Regions from separate parts of the Homo sapiens genome. Here region 1 is linked to region 2. Evidence: fine-mapped expression QTL. A gene starts in region 2. The other region holds a variant in brackets. All regions are shown on one strand. Distances are from middle to middle.

Region 1 (8,331 bases), 60 kb after region 2:
AAATACGCGAAAACCCTTGAATTGTACACTTTAAATGGGTGAGCTTTATGGTATATAAATTATATCTCAATACAGTCTGCTTTGAAGAATCTTGTTCTTGTCCTTGGGAGTTTGTAGCCTCTTTTGGTGTTTATGTGACCTTGGATACTTAATTTTCTCTTGGCTGTATGGCACGCGCTTGTAATCCTAGCACTTTGGGAGGCCAAGGCAGGAGGTTCGCAGGAGTTCGAGGCAAGTCTCCTGGGCAACATGGTGAGACTGTCTCTCTCTCTCTCTTTTTTTTTTTTTTTTTTTTTGAGACAGACTCTTGCTCTGTTGCCCAGGCTGGAGTGCAGTGGCGCGATCTTGGCTCACTGCAACCTCCACCTCTCAGGTTCAAGTGATTCTTCTGCCTCAGCCTCCCGAGTAGCTGGGACTACAGGTGCATGCCACCACAACCGGCTGATTTTTTGTAGTTTTAGTAGAGATGGGGTTTCACCGTATTAGCCAGGATGGTCTCAATCTCCTGACCTTGTGATCCACCTGCCTCAGCCTCCCAAAGTGCTGGGATTACAGGCATGAGCCACTGCACCCAGCCTTTTTTTTTTTTTTTTTGAAATGGAGTTTCGCTCTTGTTGCCTAGGCTGGAGTGCTATGGCACGATCTCAGCTCACCTCAAACTCAGCCTCCTGGGTTCAAGCGATTCTCCTGCCTCAGCCTTCCGAGTAGCTGGGATTACAGGCATGAGCCACCAGGCCTGGCTAATTTTGTATTTTTTTTTTTTTTTGAGACGGAGTCTCGCTCTGTTGCCCAGGCCGGACTGCGGACTGCAGTGGCGCAATCTCGGCTCACTGCAAGCTCCGCTTCCCGGGTTCACGCCATTCTCCTGCCTCAGCCTCCCGAGTAGCTGGGACTACAGGCGCCCGCCACCGCGCCCGGCTAATTTTTTGTATTTTTAGTAGAGACGGGGTTTCACCTTGTTAGCCAGGATGGTCTCGATCTCCTGACCTCATGATCCACCCGCCTCGGCCTCCCAAAGTGCTGGGATTACAGGCGTGAGCCACCGCGCCCGGCCAATTTTGTATTTTTATTAGAGACAGGGTTTCTCCAGCCTGTTGGTCAGGCTGATCTCGAACTCCCGACCTTGGGTGATCCGCCCGCCTTGGTCTCCCAAAGTGCTGGGATTACAGGCGTGAGCCACCGCACCCGGCCCTTTTTTTTTTTTTTTTTTTTTAAATAAAAATTATTTCCCCAACCTCTCATGAGCTCCTGGAGTATAGTAGCTAGACCGGGAGCCTGTTCCATTCCCTTCTGGGGCAGGCACTGAGCCTTTAGGCTAGCTAGAGGCCCCATAGATGAGGCTTGGCAGAAATGTGCTCTGAGCTCCTGCCATCAGATTGTCACATTTTGCAGAGTGAGAGGAGTTCCAGGGCAGTCTTCCTTTATGTGGCTTATTCCCTTCAGTGATGTCCTCAAAGGTCTAGAAAGGTGGACCTGGGTATATAGGATGTCTCTCGTCTCCCCACAGCATAGAGCTGAGGTTAGAAAAAGACGGATGTTTTACTACATGCTGCTCTTTTTCACTGTGGCCCAGTCCTCAGAGGAAACATGGGTTTCTTATTATAGAAAAGAGAGAGATCAGATTAGATGAAACCAAATCCCAGAACTTGATTTTCAACAGATTCCAAGGAACTGTGAATCCTGATAAATTCCTTGGCCTTTTTTTTGTCTACTTCAAAAATTGGAAAACAGGTGATTTGGAGAATATCTTTAGATTTTGGCAGTTTGAAAATTAAATTCAGCTATCTAGTAAGTCAGAAAGCAGAAAGAGGTTTTTTTGCTTCTGACTTTTATTGAGATCTGTTTGCTTTTTTGCATTTTGGACAGTAACGCTCATATGTGGAAAGTGCATAACAAGATGAATGAAAGTATTAGTCAGTGGGTTGGTGTTTTAAGACACTCAGGATCAAAATAATTGTTACTTCATTTAAAAAGTATTATCAAAACTCTCTAGCATATTTTAAAATAGCAGTGTTAGCTCTGATAACTAATAATGACCACTTTCTAATAATTTGATCATTTTCTTTAGTGAAGAACTGGTGGCTGAAGCACATAACCTCTGCACCCTGCTAGAAAATGCCATACAGGACACTGTGAGGGAACAAGACCAGAGTTTCACGGTAACAGCTTGTGTGAGACTCCTGCGATTCCATGTCCTTTCTTTCTATGGCAAAATAGAAGAGAAAATGGAAATGCAATCTGGCATTATCCTCAACCTCAGTGTTTGTTTGTTTGCTTGTTTATTTGTGACAGGGTCTCTCTCTCTCACCCAGGCTGGAGTGCAGTGGCATGATCTTGGCTCACTGCAACCTCCGCTTCCCGGGTTCAAGTGATTCTCATGCCTCAGCCTCCTGAGTAGCTGGGACTACAGGCGTGCGTCACCACATTCAGCTGATTTTTTCAGTGTATATTTATAATTTTCTAGTACACATTTTTTATTATTCATAATAATAGTGATGTCTAACAATTATTGAAGGCTTACAACTACATGTATGCATTATCTTATTTAATCCTTGGAACACTTAATTCCGATGATGAGGAAGAAGGTAGCATTGTTCCCAGAAGCCTGTCCCCACCTGCACCATTGGTACTACTGCTGAGTATTTGTGTGTTGAGTGCTGGGCTGGGAGCAGGAACCAGCCATGGCCTTGTCCTCAGGGCCTTGGAGCTTAGTGGTAGGTAGTACTAGTTATGAGAAAACTAGCCAAGTTACAGGTACATTAAGACAAAGCTTCCATTGTTGAGAGAATCCTGCATCATTTGCTTAGATCTTTACATGGCCTTTACCTGCTAATCACTTGCTAACCTCCCCTAACTTTAAGCTTTTGGAAGAATTACAAGGGATACCACTGTGAATTGCAGCCTTTGCTGATGTAGTCGCATGTCCTCCTCCAGTCTGTGGACATTCTATATCTCTTGCTGCTCTCCTCCTCCTGGCATGATAATGTTTTGATCAGTTCATTGCTTACTTGCATGTCTGTGGGAGGAAGAGGAAGTCTCATCAGGCCAAGTCATGTGGTGAGGCTGGAAATCCATAACTGAGATTAGCTACCCACAGTGAGCATGGGAGTGAGTGCTGTGAGCCACAGTGGTACTGACGTCGACTTTCTAATTCCCACAGTCACAGAATCTCAAGGACTCTGAGCCAATTCAAAGAAAAGATCCTGTACAGTTTGAATATGTAACTTAGCTTAAGAGTACCCTGCAGTCACAAGATTTATTAATAAAAGGGTTTGGCTTTTTAATTTGTATTTGTTTAATTTATTTGTTTTATGCAGCCTGGGTCTTGCTATGTTGCCCAGGCTGGTCTTGAACTCCTGGCCTCAAGCGATCCGCTCGCCTCTGCCTCCCAAAGTGCTGGAACTATAGGCATGAGCCACCATACCCAGCCAATAAAGGGGTTTCAATATATTTCTTTTTATTTTTTATTTTTTGAGATGGAGTCTTGCTCTTTTGCCCAGGGTGGAGTGCAATGGCACGATCTCAGCTCACTGCAACCCCTACCTCCCAGGTTCAAGTGATTCTCCTGCCTCAGCCTCCTGAGTAGCTGGGACTATAGGAGCTTGCCACCACGCCTGGCTAATTTTGTATTTTTAGTAGAAATGGGGTTTCACCATTTTGGCCAGGCTGGTCTCGAACTCCTGACCTCATGATCTGCCCACCTTGGCCTCCCAAAGTGTTGGGATTATAGGCATGAGCCACTGTGCCTGGCTGGGTTTTAGTATATTTCTCAATTGTCCTGATTTCCTCCTGAAGAGGAAAAATAACCTGAAATGTGTTGGTGGCTGTTGTTTTTTTAACATGTCTGTTGACTTTCAGGCCCTAGACTGGAGCTGGTTACAGACGGAAGAAGAAGAGCACAGCTGCCTGGAGCAGGCCTCATGATGTGGGGGGACTCGACCCCCTGACATGGGGCAGCCCATAGCAGGCCTTGTGCAGTGGGGGGACTCGACCCCCTGACATGGGGCTGCCTGGAGCAGGCCGCGTGACGTGGGGCTGCCTGGCCGCGGCTCTCACATGGTGGTTCCTGCTGCACTGATGGCCCAGGGGTCTCTGGTATCCAGATGGAGCTCTCGCTTCCTCAGCAGCTGTGACTTTCACCCAGGACCCAGGACGCAGCCCTCCGTGGGCACTGCCGGCGCCTTGTCTGCACACTGGAGGTCCTCCATTACAGAGGCCCAGCGCACATCGCTGGCCCCACAAACGTTCAGGGGTACAGCCATGGCAGCTCCTTCCTCTGCCGTGAGAAAAGTGCTTGGAGTACGGTTTGCCACACACGTGACTGGACAGTGTCCAATTCAAATCTTTCAGGGCAGAGTCCGAGCAGCGCTTGGTGACAGCCTGTCCTCTCCTGCTCTCCAAAGGCCCTGCTCCCTGTCCTCTCTCACTTTACAGCTTGTGTTTCTTCTGGATTCAGCTTCTCCTAAACAGACAGTTTAATTATAGTTGCGGCCTGGCCCCATCCTCACTTCCTCTTTTTATTTCACTGCTGCTAAAATTGTGTTTTTACCTACTACTTTGGTGGTTGTCCTCTTTTCGGCAAAGTTGGAGCGAGTGCCAAGCTCTCCATCTGTGGTCCTTTCTGCCAAGAGCGACTCATAGTAACCAGGATGGGAGAGCAGCTGCCTTATTCTGAATCCCAAAAATTACTTGGGGGTGATTGTCACAGAGGAGGGACAGAAAGGGTATCTGCTGACCACCAGCCTGCCTACCCATGCCCATGTCTCCATTCCTGCTCAAGCGTGTGTGCTGGGCCGGGGAGTCCCTGTCTCTCACAGCATCTAGCAGTATTATTAAATGGATTCATTTTAAAAATAGCTCCTATATTTTGTAACATGTCTCAAACACTCATACTGGGTTCCACAATCCACTGTTAGAATACCTATGGTTAGGGCTTCTGAACTAAAATAATGGAAAATTTTAACAATTTGTATAGTGCCTGGATCATTACTAGTGCCATAACCCTGCTTCTTCAACATTTCACAGAACTTCTCTTTTATATAAAGGCAAGAGCACAAAATGAGTTCAGATGATCACAAACAGGTGAGTTTTGTTGGAGAAGAAAGTTGGAGTAGGAGACTTTCACAAGTGGTTTCCATGGAGA[T/C]AGAATGAAGCATTCTGTGGTCAAGTAAGTTTAGGGAGCTATTCATGTTTCACTTGCTTTGTGGAGATTCACACTATGCACTGGGAAAGTATCTGAAAAGTCTTATAATAAAGAAACAGGCTTAACTTTGTGTAAGAACACTGTTTATCAATGTCATTTGGCTATAGAAACATTTTCTCCTGCTGATTGTGTGTGTGAAACATGTATTAACATTCCAATGAACTAGCATTTAATAAAGCACAATTTTGGAAACCCTGGTAAATGACAGTGGGAAATAACACCCGAAAGGCAAGGACGGGCAGATTGGGGAGGGAAAGGATGTTGGGCTAAGGGCTGTGAGCTTATGTTACAGGCAACTGAGCCACTGAAGAATTTTGACGAAGAAAATGCCAACCAAAGCAGTCATTTTAAAAGTTTATGGCTGTTCAGTTACAGGACAAGTTGTGAAAAGAAAGAAAAAAAATGGAAAAAAAAAAAGTTTATGGCTGAAACAGTGTAATTGATTAAAAAGTGAAAATCCAGGCCGGGCGCGGTGGCTCACGCCTGTAATTCCAACACTTTGGGAGGCTGAGGCAGGCAGATCACCTGAGGTCGGGAGTTCGAGACCAGCCTGACCAATATGGAGAAACCCCGTCTCTACTAAAAATACAAAAGCCAGGCGTGGTGGGACATGCCTGTAATCCCAGCTACTCGGGAGGCTGAGGCAGGAGAATCGCTTGAACCTAGGAGGCAGAGGTTGCAGTGAGCAGAGATTGTGCCATTGCACTCCAGCCTGGGCAAAAAGAGCGAAACTTTGTCTCAAAAAAAAAAAAAAAAAGTGAAAATCCAGGAGTTAGTATGTCTGCTTCCAAAAAGATTAGATAGATACATTTTTTCCTCTCAGTAAGTACAGCTAAACTCCTTGGTCACATAAACAAACACAAGACTCTGAAAGGTAGAGATAAGACGGAAGACTATCCCTGGACCTTGGGATCTGAGGAAGGACTCTGGTAGTTATTCCGTGGCTTTTCTTTTTGTCTCAAGGTTGAGTGCTGGCTTCGGAAGGCCAAGGCGGGCGGATCAGGAGGTCAGGAGTTTGAGACCAGCCCGACCAACATGGTGAAACCCCGCCTCTACTAAAAATACAAAAATTAGCCGGGTGTGGTGGCATGCGGCTGTAATCCCAGCTACTCAGGAGGCTGAGGCAGGAGAATCGCTTGAACCCGGGAGGCGGAGGTTGCAGTGAGCCAAGATCATGCCACTGCATGGGTGACAGAGCAAGACTCTGTCTCAAAAAAAAAAAAAAAAAAAGATATGAGTGCTGGAGAAGCCAACCAATGGGCACAGACAAGAAAGCCTGCTCTCTCTACCTGCGTTAGTTTCCTAGACCTGCCCTAGCTAGTTACCACAACTTTGGTGGCTTAAATGACAGAAACTTATTCTCTCCCAGTTCCGGAGGCCAGAAGTCTGAAATAAAGGTGTGAACAGGATCACACCTCTTCTGAAGGCTCTAGGGAGGTTCTATCCCTGGTGGCGTCCAGCTTCTGTTGGCTTTAGGCAATCCTTGGCTTGTGACTGCATCTCTGCCCCTGGGTCATATTGCTGCCGCTTTCTCTGTCACATCTCTGCTGTGTATCTCTTACAAGAATACTTGCCATTGGATTTAGAGCCAATTTGAAAAATCCAGGGTAAGCACTTTGTCTCAAGATGTTTCATGTAATCACAGTTTGCCATATGAGGTAATGTTCACAGGCTCTGGAGATTATGATGTGGACATCTTCTTGGGGGCCACCATTCAGCCCACTACAGTCCACCCTCTGGCACCCCAAAATCCATATTTGTCCTACATGAAAAAGACATTTATTCCTCCCAACATCTCCCAAAGTCTCAACTCATACAGCATGAACTAAGACCAAATTTGCATCTATATATTAGCTCAGAAGTCCTGCATCTCATCATCTAAGTCAGATGTGGGTGAGACCCCGTGCATGATTCATTTTAGGATTAAATTTCTCTGGCTGTGGACCTGTGATACTACAGGTTATCAGCTTCCAAATAACTTTGGAATTTGGATAAATAAATTTATTTAAAATGATGTAATAGGCATATGATAGATGTTCTCATTCTGAAAGGGAAAATTGGAAGGGATAAAGAAGTCACCATTCCCAACCAATTTTGATCTAGCAGAGAAAATTCCATTAGGATTCAAGGCCTGCAAATAATTCCCTAGCTTGAAGTGCCGCCCACTGGGCCCACAACAGTTGTGCAGACCTTTGTGTCTGCTCACAGCAGAACCATGGGCCTCTCTGTACCCATGGTGGCTCCATAGGCCTCTGAGTCTGTGCTCACAGTGACCTCATAGGCCTGTGTCTCTGCATCCATCACTTCTGTCTGCTCCTCTGGCCTCTGCCTCTGTGCCCCTGGCTCTGCCCTTGGAGTCATTCTTGCTTTTTCTTGAAGGATCGCATGTTTGCAGCCCAGTAGCTCTATCAGCCCATTTCTTGCCCGTAGCAGTTTGGATTTCAACAGCCTTTTCTCATTTCACACTGTCTCTGTCACTTCCAGGCTAAGCTGTCTCTGCTGATGTAACATTCTCAAAAATCTTGTGGGTCCCCTGTGTAATGTCATGGAGTTCAATGCCATTAGACAAGAGGGTCCTCCACAAATTTTCTGGGATAATCCCATCTCTATTCCTGACTTCTACTGAGATGGTTGAATGAGTCCAAGAGTCCCATGCTTCATCTCTTCGTGCCACCACACCCAGTACATTTTTCTTATTTTTGTAAAAGAGATGGGGTCTCGCCATGTTGCCCAGTCTGGTCTTGAACTCCTGGGCTCGATCCTCCTGCCTCCACCTCCCAGAGTGCTGGGATTACAGGTGGCCGTGTTTGACACTTCAGCAAAACTGCAATTTAAGTTATTAACTTTATTGAGTACTTACGTGGAAACAAAAATTAAGTCCCTTCTCCCGTGGAGCTGGCATTGCACATTGGTGGGAGGAGGAGTGAGCAGGGAGTGCATAATGTGCAACCACGTGTGAATATTTCCAGTCCTTCTTAGTACTGTGAAGGAAACACACAAGTAAAAACCTGGGCCTGGTCCAGGAACGTGACAAGGGTGTGACTGCCAGGCTGGGACCTGAATGATGAGAAGAAGGCAGCCAGGGAAAGAACCATACAATGAGGGGACAATGCTGAGCAGGCACATGT
Region 2 (8,331 bases):
GCCCCTACTTTCTTAATAAACTTGCTTTCACTTTACTGACTCGCCCTGAATTCTTTCTTGCGCGAGATCCAAGAACCCTCTCTTGGGGTCTGGATCGGGACCCCTTTCCTATAACGGTACTGTACTGTGGTACTAATTACTGCAGAACAAATCCGTGTGTGATTTTATATTGCCTGGCCTTTGTCTGTCCTTACTTCATGGCTCCCTGTGGGTCTTAAAAACCCAGTAAGATTCTAAGTGCCTCTGATGAGATCTCATTCCATTGCTTGGATCCCCTGGGTCAGTAATGCCCTGGGCTGAGCTAGGCACTCTGGCTGGTCAGTATTTCTTGATTTCCCTATAGCACAGCTAAAAAGCACACTCAGCCTCAAAGCAGGAAGAAAAGGGGACATTTTTCTGCTGAATCTGAAAATATCTTTTGTAAACAGTCTGCTCATATCTCCAGAGCAGGACAGAAACCAGATGCAGGCAGAGATAGCTAAACATGTCTTATCTGGATAGAAAATTGAGCTTAAGATAATAAATATCTTGGAATATGATAAAACCCAGAGGCCCCTTCCTGGTCCATGATTAATTGAAGAAAAAAAAAGCCTAGTAATACGTGACCTTATCAGAGAGATTTATGTTCAGTTGAAAGCCAAGTTATTTTGAGCTGAGCAAAATGAGGATTCAAATTACAGGAGCGCAGAGTAAACTTTTGGCATATTAGCGGACATCTTGGTAAGTTTCTCAGGACAGTGTTTTTCAGAGATGACAGGATTAAAGAGAAACCTTTTATGACATTGTACTGGAAATGGACTCTCCACAGTGCCCAGCACATATAGGTGCTCAATAATTTTTTTTTTTTTTTTTTTTTTTAGATGGAGTTTTGCTCTTGTCGCCCAGGCTGGAGTGCAATGGCACGATCTCGGCTCACTGCAACCTCTGCCTCCTGGGTTCAAGCGATTCTCCTGCCTCAGCCTCCCGAGTAGCTTGGATTACAGGCACGTGCCACCACGCCCAGCTAATTTTTTTGTATTTTTAGTAGAGATGGCGTTTCACCATATTGGCCAGGATGGTCTTGATCTCCTGACCTCGTGATCTGCCCGCCTTGGCCTCCCAAAGTGCTGGCATTACAGGTGTAAGCCACTGTGCCTGGCCTAATTTTTGTATTTTTAGTAGAGACGGGGTTTCACTATGTTGGCCAGGCTAGTCTTGAACTCCTGACCTCAAGTGATCTGCCTGCCTCGGCCTTCCAAAGTGCTGAGATTACAGGGGTGAGCCACCACACCCGGCCAAATTTTTTTTTTTGAGATGGAGTCTCGCTCTGTCGCCCACGTTGTAGTGCACTGGTGCGATCTCCACTCACTGCAACCTCCAGCTCCTGGGTTCAAGTGATTCTCCTGCCTCAGCCTCCCAAGTAGCTGGGATTATAGGCACCTGCCACCACGCCCAGCTAATTTTTGTATTTTTCGTAGAGACGTGGTTTCACCATGTTGGCCAGGCTGGTCTCAAATTCCTGACCTCAAGTGATCTGCCTACCTTGGCCTCCCAAAGTGCTGGGATTACAGGCATGAGCCACCTCACCTGGCCAATAAATATTTTATTTAAAAAATTTACTTATTAAGCAAACACTTATATTGCACTTAGACAATGCAGTCACTATTCTACGTGTGTTACAACTATTTACTCATGTTCCTGTTGCTTCTGGCCTTGAGGCTGAGCTTGCCATTTAGCTGGGAGTAATCAAGAAATACCAGGCCAGAAGCGGTGGCTCACACCTGTAATCCCAGCACTTAGGGAGGCCAAGGCGGGAGGATTGCTTTGAGGCCAGGAGTTCAAGCCAAGTCTGAGCAACATAGTGAGACCCCCATGTCAACAAAATAAAATTTAAAAATTAGCTGGTCATGGTGGCACGTGCCTGTAATCTCAGCTAGTGGGGAGGCTGAGGCGGGAGGACCCCTTGAACCCAGGAGGTCAAGACTGCAGTGAGCCGTGATCCTGCCACTATACTCCAAAGTGGGCGATAGAGAAAGGCCCTGTCAAGAAAGAAAAAAGAAAGAAAAGGAAAGAAAAGGAAAGGAAAGGAAGAAAGGAAAGGAAAGGAAGAAAGAAAGGAAAGAAAAAAAAGAAAGCTAGCAGCTGGGAAGGGAAGGGGAGGGGAAGCGAGGGGAGGGGAGGGGAGGGGAGGGGAGGGGAGGAAAAGGAAAGGAAAGAAGGAAAGAAGGAAGGAAGGAGGAGAGATAGGAAGGAAGGAAAAGAAGGAAAAGAAAGAAACCAAGTAGCCGGGAAGGGAAGGGAAGGGGAGGGGAGTGGAGGGGAGGGGAGGAGAGGGGAGGGGGAAGGAAGGAAGGAAAAGAGAGAGAGAGAGAAAGAAAAAGAGAAAGGAGAGGGAAGAGGGGAGAGGGGAGAAACCGAGCAGCCAGCGTGCCTAGCACAGCCCTGGACACCATTGACCCCTATGTTTGGGTTGAGATCTGTCCCTGAGTTAACTTCAACCCCAGGGCTGTCAGGCACTGCTGCTATCAATACCTCATTTGTCCCTCACAACAACTCTGGGGTGGCCTCCTTTCTATGACTTTCTATGAGCCCGCCTGTCCCCCTGCTATTACAATGAAGCAGATGAAACTGCTGATCTTTGTTACTGATGTTTTGGCTGTTTTCAATTTCCAAAAAATGACAATTAAATGCAATTCAACCTAATATTGCCTAAATTTTAAAAGAGGAAATAGGTTCTCACAGTGTTTAAGTAACCAGCCCCCGTGCCTCAGAGGTAGTCAACAGCAGTATCTGGATTCAAAATCCAGTTTGCCTCCTTCTGAACTTCTTAACATGCTACTTTTAGCCACGGATTAAGAACCCGGGAACCAGTTGCTAGGGTTTGAGTATCAGCTCATCTACGTAGCAGCCATGTACCTTGGAAATAATAATAATGCAGACCAGGTGCAGTGGCTCACAGCCTGTAATCTCAACACTTTGGGAAGCCCAGGCGGGTGGATCCCTTGAGCCCAGGAGTTGGAGACCAGCCTGGGCAACACAGTGAGTGAGACCCCGCCACCAGGTATGGCGGCCGCGCACCTGTAGTCAGGAGAATCACTTGAGCCCAGGAGTTGGAGGTTGCACTGAGCTGTGATCACACCACTGCACTCCAGCCTGGGTGACAGAGCGAGATAATAATAATAATGATGATGATGATGCAGTATTTTCCAATTTACAGGGTTGCCCTGAGGATTGAATAAGGAAATCTAAGTACAGAGATTTAGAACAGAGCCCTGCACTGTGTAAGCACTCTATAGATGTGAGCTATTATTATCATCTTCAGGTTCCTTTGGTAGTTTTTTTCTGCTTGAATAAAATATAGCAACACACACACACACCTCCTTTGTCCACTAATGTAATCCCATAAAACGGAGAAACTCAGCAGTGAGGACATTCTGATTCCAAGCAGGAAGGAGATGAACGATGAACCTCAGGCTGAGCGCCTCACGGTTTCCTCATGTCACCGGGGCTGGGGGTGCAGTTTGGCTTCACACTGCTAGGTCTTTTCTTGTTTTTAAGGGGGCAGGGGCTGTCACCTCTGAGGAGTCAGCTGTGATTGATCCTTCTCCACACCCAGCCAAGCACCCCCCAGACAGGGGAGCGCCCGCAGTAGGGCGGTAGGCAAGGGCAGTTCTAGCCAACAGTCCCTAAATCATCCCAGCGGGGGCGCGGGAAATTCCACCGAGGTGAAAGCCTAGGGGGCCGGGTGAAGAAATCCCCATACCCGGGCCCAGAAACCGCTCCAGGTGGAAGTAACTTGTCTAAAGAGAACAGGGTGTAACGGGGGTCATTTCAGGGCTGTTCTTTTAAATCGGTGAGCACGGTCTGTCTACTTTCCCTCAGTTGTCTAGAGACCACACGCCACCCCCGCCCCGGGGGAGTCGCCCGGTCGAGGGTCCCGGGACAGGCGCAGCACTCGCAGCATCCGGACCTGGTCTGCCTCGCGCCGGGAGCGGCCTCTTTAAGAGCGGCCGCGGCCAACGTGCTCCGTGACGTCAGAGCAGGAAGTGTTTGAGGAAGTCGCGCCGCGCTGCCCGCGTTAAGATTCCCGCATTTTAATGTTTTCAGGGGGGTGTCATAGCCCCGGGTTTGGCCGCCCCAGCCCCGCCTTCCCCGCCCCGGGGAGCCCGCCCCCTGCCCCGCGTCCCTGCCGACAGGTGAGTCCCCCTCGTGGGTGCGGCCCGGGTGCCACCTGCAGGCCCCGCCGCCCCGCTGCCTGCAAGGCCCGGAAGACCCCTCTGTGCCGCTGGGAAGTCGCAGCTTGCGGACTGGGGAGCGTTTCACTTGTGCGGGTTGGAGTTCGGGAAGCCGGGAGAAACAGCTCTCCCTGGGGTGGCTTCTTGGGGGTGGGTGGCTTTGAGGGGAACCTGCGATTTATGGGAACATTGTAAAGAAACACGTGACCTCGGCGATGCTCAGAAGTAGGTTCTGCCCCTGCCACCTCGGGCAGAAGGCGGGCAGGCCCGGGCGCCCCTGGTGGAGTCAGCTGGGGATCCCCTCGCTAGGGCAAGGGCGTGGGCATCGCCTCCCTCGGTGACTTTCTTCCTTGCCTGATGCCACAGCAACCGGATGGGGGAGGGTGAGAGGGACAAAAGTTTGCCACAAAGTTTGGACCAACCAAACACATTGGTTTCTTTACAAAATAAAAAACCAGTTGTATTTTTCTTCTCTCCCATTCAAGAGCAGTGGTATCTCTTGCCTTCTCCATCCCTTTGAGCTCCATTTTTTTCTTAATCCTAACCTTTTTTCCCCATCCCAAATTGCTTATAGAGTTAGCACGACATCAGTATGAGCTGGTCACCTTCCCTGACAACGCAGACATGTGGGGCCTGGGAAATGAAAGAGCGCCTTGGGACAGGGGGATTTGGAAATGTCATCCGATGGCACAATCAGGTAGGCCCTCTGTGCAGCTTGGGGAGGGGCGGGGAGCCAGGCCCCCTCCTCACTGCCTCCACTTTCTCTGATCCTGCTGGGCCAAGGGCTCACCTTTGGCTTTGGTCATCTTGGGACAGTGAATAGGGGGACTGGGAAGAGGGCTTCAGGACTTCTGAGCTGACTCCAGGTTAGTGGTCTCCATGCTTTATTGACTATGTCACCTAAATAAATAGTAAAATAAAGTTAAGCTCTTAGTCTCTATTATATATATATGGTAACAGTAGAATATCATGTACTAATATATACTGATATTATATGTTATAAAACATATAGAAATAGGAAAATTTAAAGGATGAGACTAAATAAATAATTTAAAATATTTTAATTCCTTGAGGCCAGTAGTTCAAGAGCAGCCTGGGCAACATAGCAAGACCTCGTCTCTACAAAAAAGGTTTAAAAATTAGGCAGCCAGCTGGGCGTGGTGGCTTATACCTGTAATCTCAGCACTTTGGGAGGCTGAGGCAGGCGGATCACGCAGTCAGGAGATGGAGACCATCCTGGCTAACACTGTGAAACCCCATCTCTACTAAAAATACAAAGAATTAGCCAGGCTTGGTGGCACGTGCCTGTAGTCCCCAGCTACTTGGGAGGCTGAGGCAGGAGAATCGCTTGAACCCATGAGGCGGAGGTTGCAGTGAGCCAAGATTGCGCTACTGCACTCCAGCCTGGGTAACAGAGTGAGACTCCGTCTCAAAAAAAAAAAAAAAAAAAAAACCTTAGGCAGCCTTGGTGCGTACCTGTAGTCCCACTACATTGGAGGCTGATGTGGGAGGATTGCTTGTCCAGGAGTTTGAGGCTGTAGTGAGCTATGATTGTGCCACTGCACTCTAGCCTAGGTGACAGAGTGAGACCTTGTTTCAAAACCATTTTTTAAAAATTATTTTAAATGTCGGGTGCAGTGGCTTACACCTGTAATCCCAGCACTTTGGGAGGCCGAGGCAGGAGGATCACTTGAGGTCAGGAGTTTGAGACCAGCCTGGCCAACATGGTGAAACCTCATCTCTACTAAAAATACAAAATTAGCTGGTGTGGTGGTGCATGCCTGTAACTTCAGCTACTCAGGAGGCTGAGGCAGGAGAATCGCTTGAACCCAGGAGGCAGAGGTTGCAGTGAGCCGAGATAGTGTCACTGCATTCCAGCCTGGGTGACAGAATGAGACCCTGTCTCAAAAAATATATATATATATATATATTTAAAATATTTGCTAATTATGATGTCTTCCCAGTATTGCTTGCGATACTGCACGGCAAAAAATAAGCAGATCCACATGAAAGTGAGAATTCATTTAGAATGATGATGAAAATCCATATTTCAAATAATTAACATTTTTTTAAATTTTGTAGAGATGGGGTCTTGCTATGTTGCCCAGGCTTGTCTCAAACTCTCATCCTCAAGCAGTCTTCCCGTCTTTGCCTCCCAAAATGTTTGGATTACAGGCCTGAGCCATGGGACCTGGCCTCAGCTGAGGTTTTTTTTTTATTTTTTGTAGTGATGGTGGTCTCACAATGTTGTCCAGGCTCGTCTAGAACTCTTGGCCTCAAGTGATCTTCCTGCCTTGGCCTCTCAAAGTGCTGGGATTACAGCCATGAGTCATTGAACCTGGCCTGTTTTTATTTTTAATTGACACATAATAATTGTACATATTTATGGGGTACAGTGTGATATTTTGATACATAATGTGTAATGATCAAATCGGGGTAATTGGCGTGTTCATCACTTGAAACACGTATCCTTTTTGTTGGAAACAGTCAAAATTCTTTCTTCTGGCTATTTTGAAATATACAATATTTTTTTTTTTCCGGAGACAGAGTCTCGCACTGTTGCCCAGGCTGGAGTGCAGTGGTGTGATCTTGGCTCACTGCAACCTCCGCCTCTTGAGTTCAAGTGATTCTCCTGCCTCAGCCTCCTGAGTACCTGGAATTACAGGTGTGCACCACCATGCCAGCTAATTTTTGTATTTTTAGTAGAAATGGGGTTTCACCATGTAGGCCATGCCGGTCTCAAACTCCTGACCTCAGGTGATCTGCCCACCTCAGCCACCCAAAGTGCTTGGATTACAAGCGTGAGCCACTACGTCCGGCCTGAAATATACAATAAAGTTTTATTCACTGTAGTCACCCTGTTGTTCTTTAGAATACTGTAACTTATTCCACCTAACCGTAATTTTGTACCCATTAACCAGTCTCTCCCTATTTCCCTCCACAACTCCCCCCACCCCCACCACCCTTTCCTGCCTCTGGTGACCACTATTCTACTTTCTACTTCTGCGAGATTAGTTTGTTGTTGTTGTTGTTGTTGTTTTGAGACGGAGTTTTGCTCTTGTCGCCCAGGCTGGAGTGCAGTGGCGCGATCTTGGCTCACTGCAACCTCTGCCTCCCAGGTTCAAGTGATTCTCCTGCCCCAGCCTCCCGAGTTGCTGAGATTACAGGTGCCTGCCACCACACCTGGCTAATTTTTGTATTTTTAATAGAGACGGGGTTTCACCATGTTGGCCAGGCTGGTCTCGAACTCCTGAACTTAGGTGATCCCCGCCGGCGCGCCCCCCCCCCCCCCCGCCATCCCAGCCTCCCAAAGTGCTGGGATTACAGGTGGGAACTACCGAGCCTGGACGAGATCAGTTTTTTTTTGTTTGTTTGTTTTGTTTTTTGAGATGGATTCTTGCTCTGTTGCCCAAGCTGGAGTGCAGTGGCACAATCTTGGCTCGCTGCAACTGGTGTCTCCCAGGTTCAAGCGATTCTCCAGCCTCAGCCTCCCAAGTAGCTGGGATTATAGCCGTGCACCACCACGCCTGGCTAATTTTTGTATTTTTAGTAGAGACAGGGTTTTACCATGTTGGCCAGTCTGGTCTCAAACTCCTGACTTCAGGCGATCTGCCTGCCTCGGCCTCCCAAAGTACTGGGATTACAGGCATGAGCCACTGTGCCTGGCATTTTTTTTTTTTTAATTTTTAATTTCTTTGGAGATAGGGTCTCAATCTGTCATCCAGGCTGAGTGCAGTGGTGCCATCATGGCTCACTGTAGCCTTGACCTCCTGGGCTCAAATGATCCTTCTGCCTCGGCCTCCTGAGTAGCTGGGACTACAGGTGTGCGTTGCCATGCCCGGCTAATTTTTGATTTTTTGTAGATAGGAGGTCTGTCTGTTGCCCAGGCTGGTCTCGAATTCCTGGACACAAGTGATCCTCCCACCTCAGCCTCTCAAAGTGCTGGGATTACAGGTGTCAGCCAACAGACTTTACCCAACTGAGATCAGTTTTTTATTAGCTCCCACGGATGAGTGAGAACATGTGGTATTTATCTCCCTGGGCCTGGCTTAATTCCCTTAATGTAATGCCCTCCAAGCTCATCCATGTTGCCACAGATGGCAGGATTTCATTCTTT

What was found. PIP is the estimated chance that this variant, and not a neighbour inherited with it, causes the effect.
Region 1: its variant is fine-mapped to the expression of IKBKB in whole blood (TOPMed, PIP above 0.99).

What each region holds. Positions count from the first base shown.
Region 1 is chr8:42,327,056-42,335,386 of GRCh38, forward strand. It overlaps IKBKB (inhibitor of nuclear factor kappa B kinase subunit beta), which reads left to right. Exons shown (of 22, transcript NM_001556.3): 21 at 2,069-2,159; 22 at 3,859-5,405. The coding sequence ends at 3,924. Among named protein-coding and RNA genes, the nearest start is that of POLB, 7.3 kb to the right of the region's middle. RefSeq lists an enhancer at 3,583-4,083. The variant T/C (reference allele first, on the strand shown) is at 5,144.
Region 2 is chr8:42,267,295-42,275,625 of GRCh38, forward strand. It overlaps IKBKB (inhibitor of nuclear factor kappa B kinase subunit beta), which reads left to right and starts at 4,008. Exons shown (of 22, transcript NM_001556.3): 1 at 4,008-4,175; 2 at 4,789-4,911. The coding sequence starts at 4,807. It overlaps IKBKB-DT (IKBKB divergent transcript), which reads right to left and starts at 3,956. Exons shown (of 4, transcript NR_185843.2): 1 at 3,357-3,956. RefSeq lists an enhancer at 3,003-3,502 and a silencer at 3,999-4,288.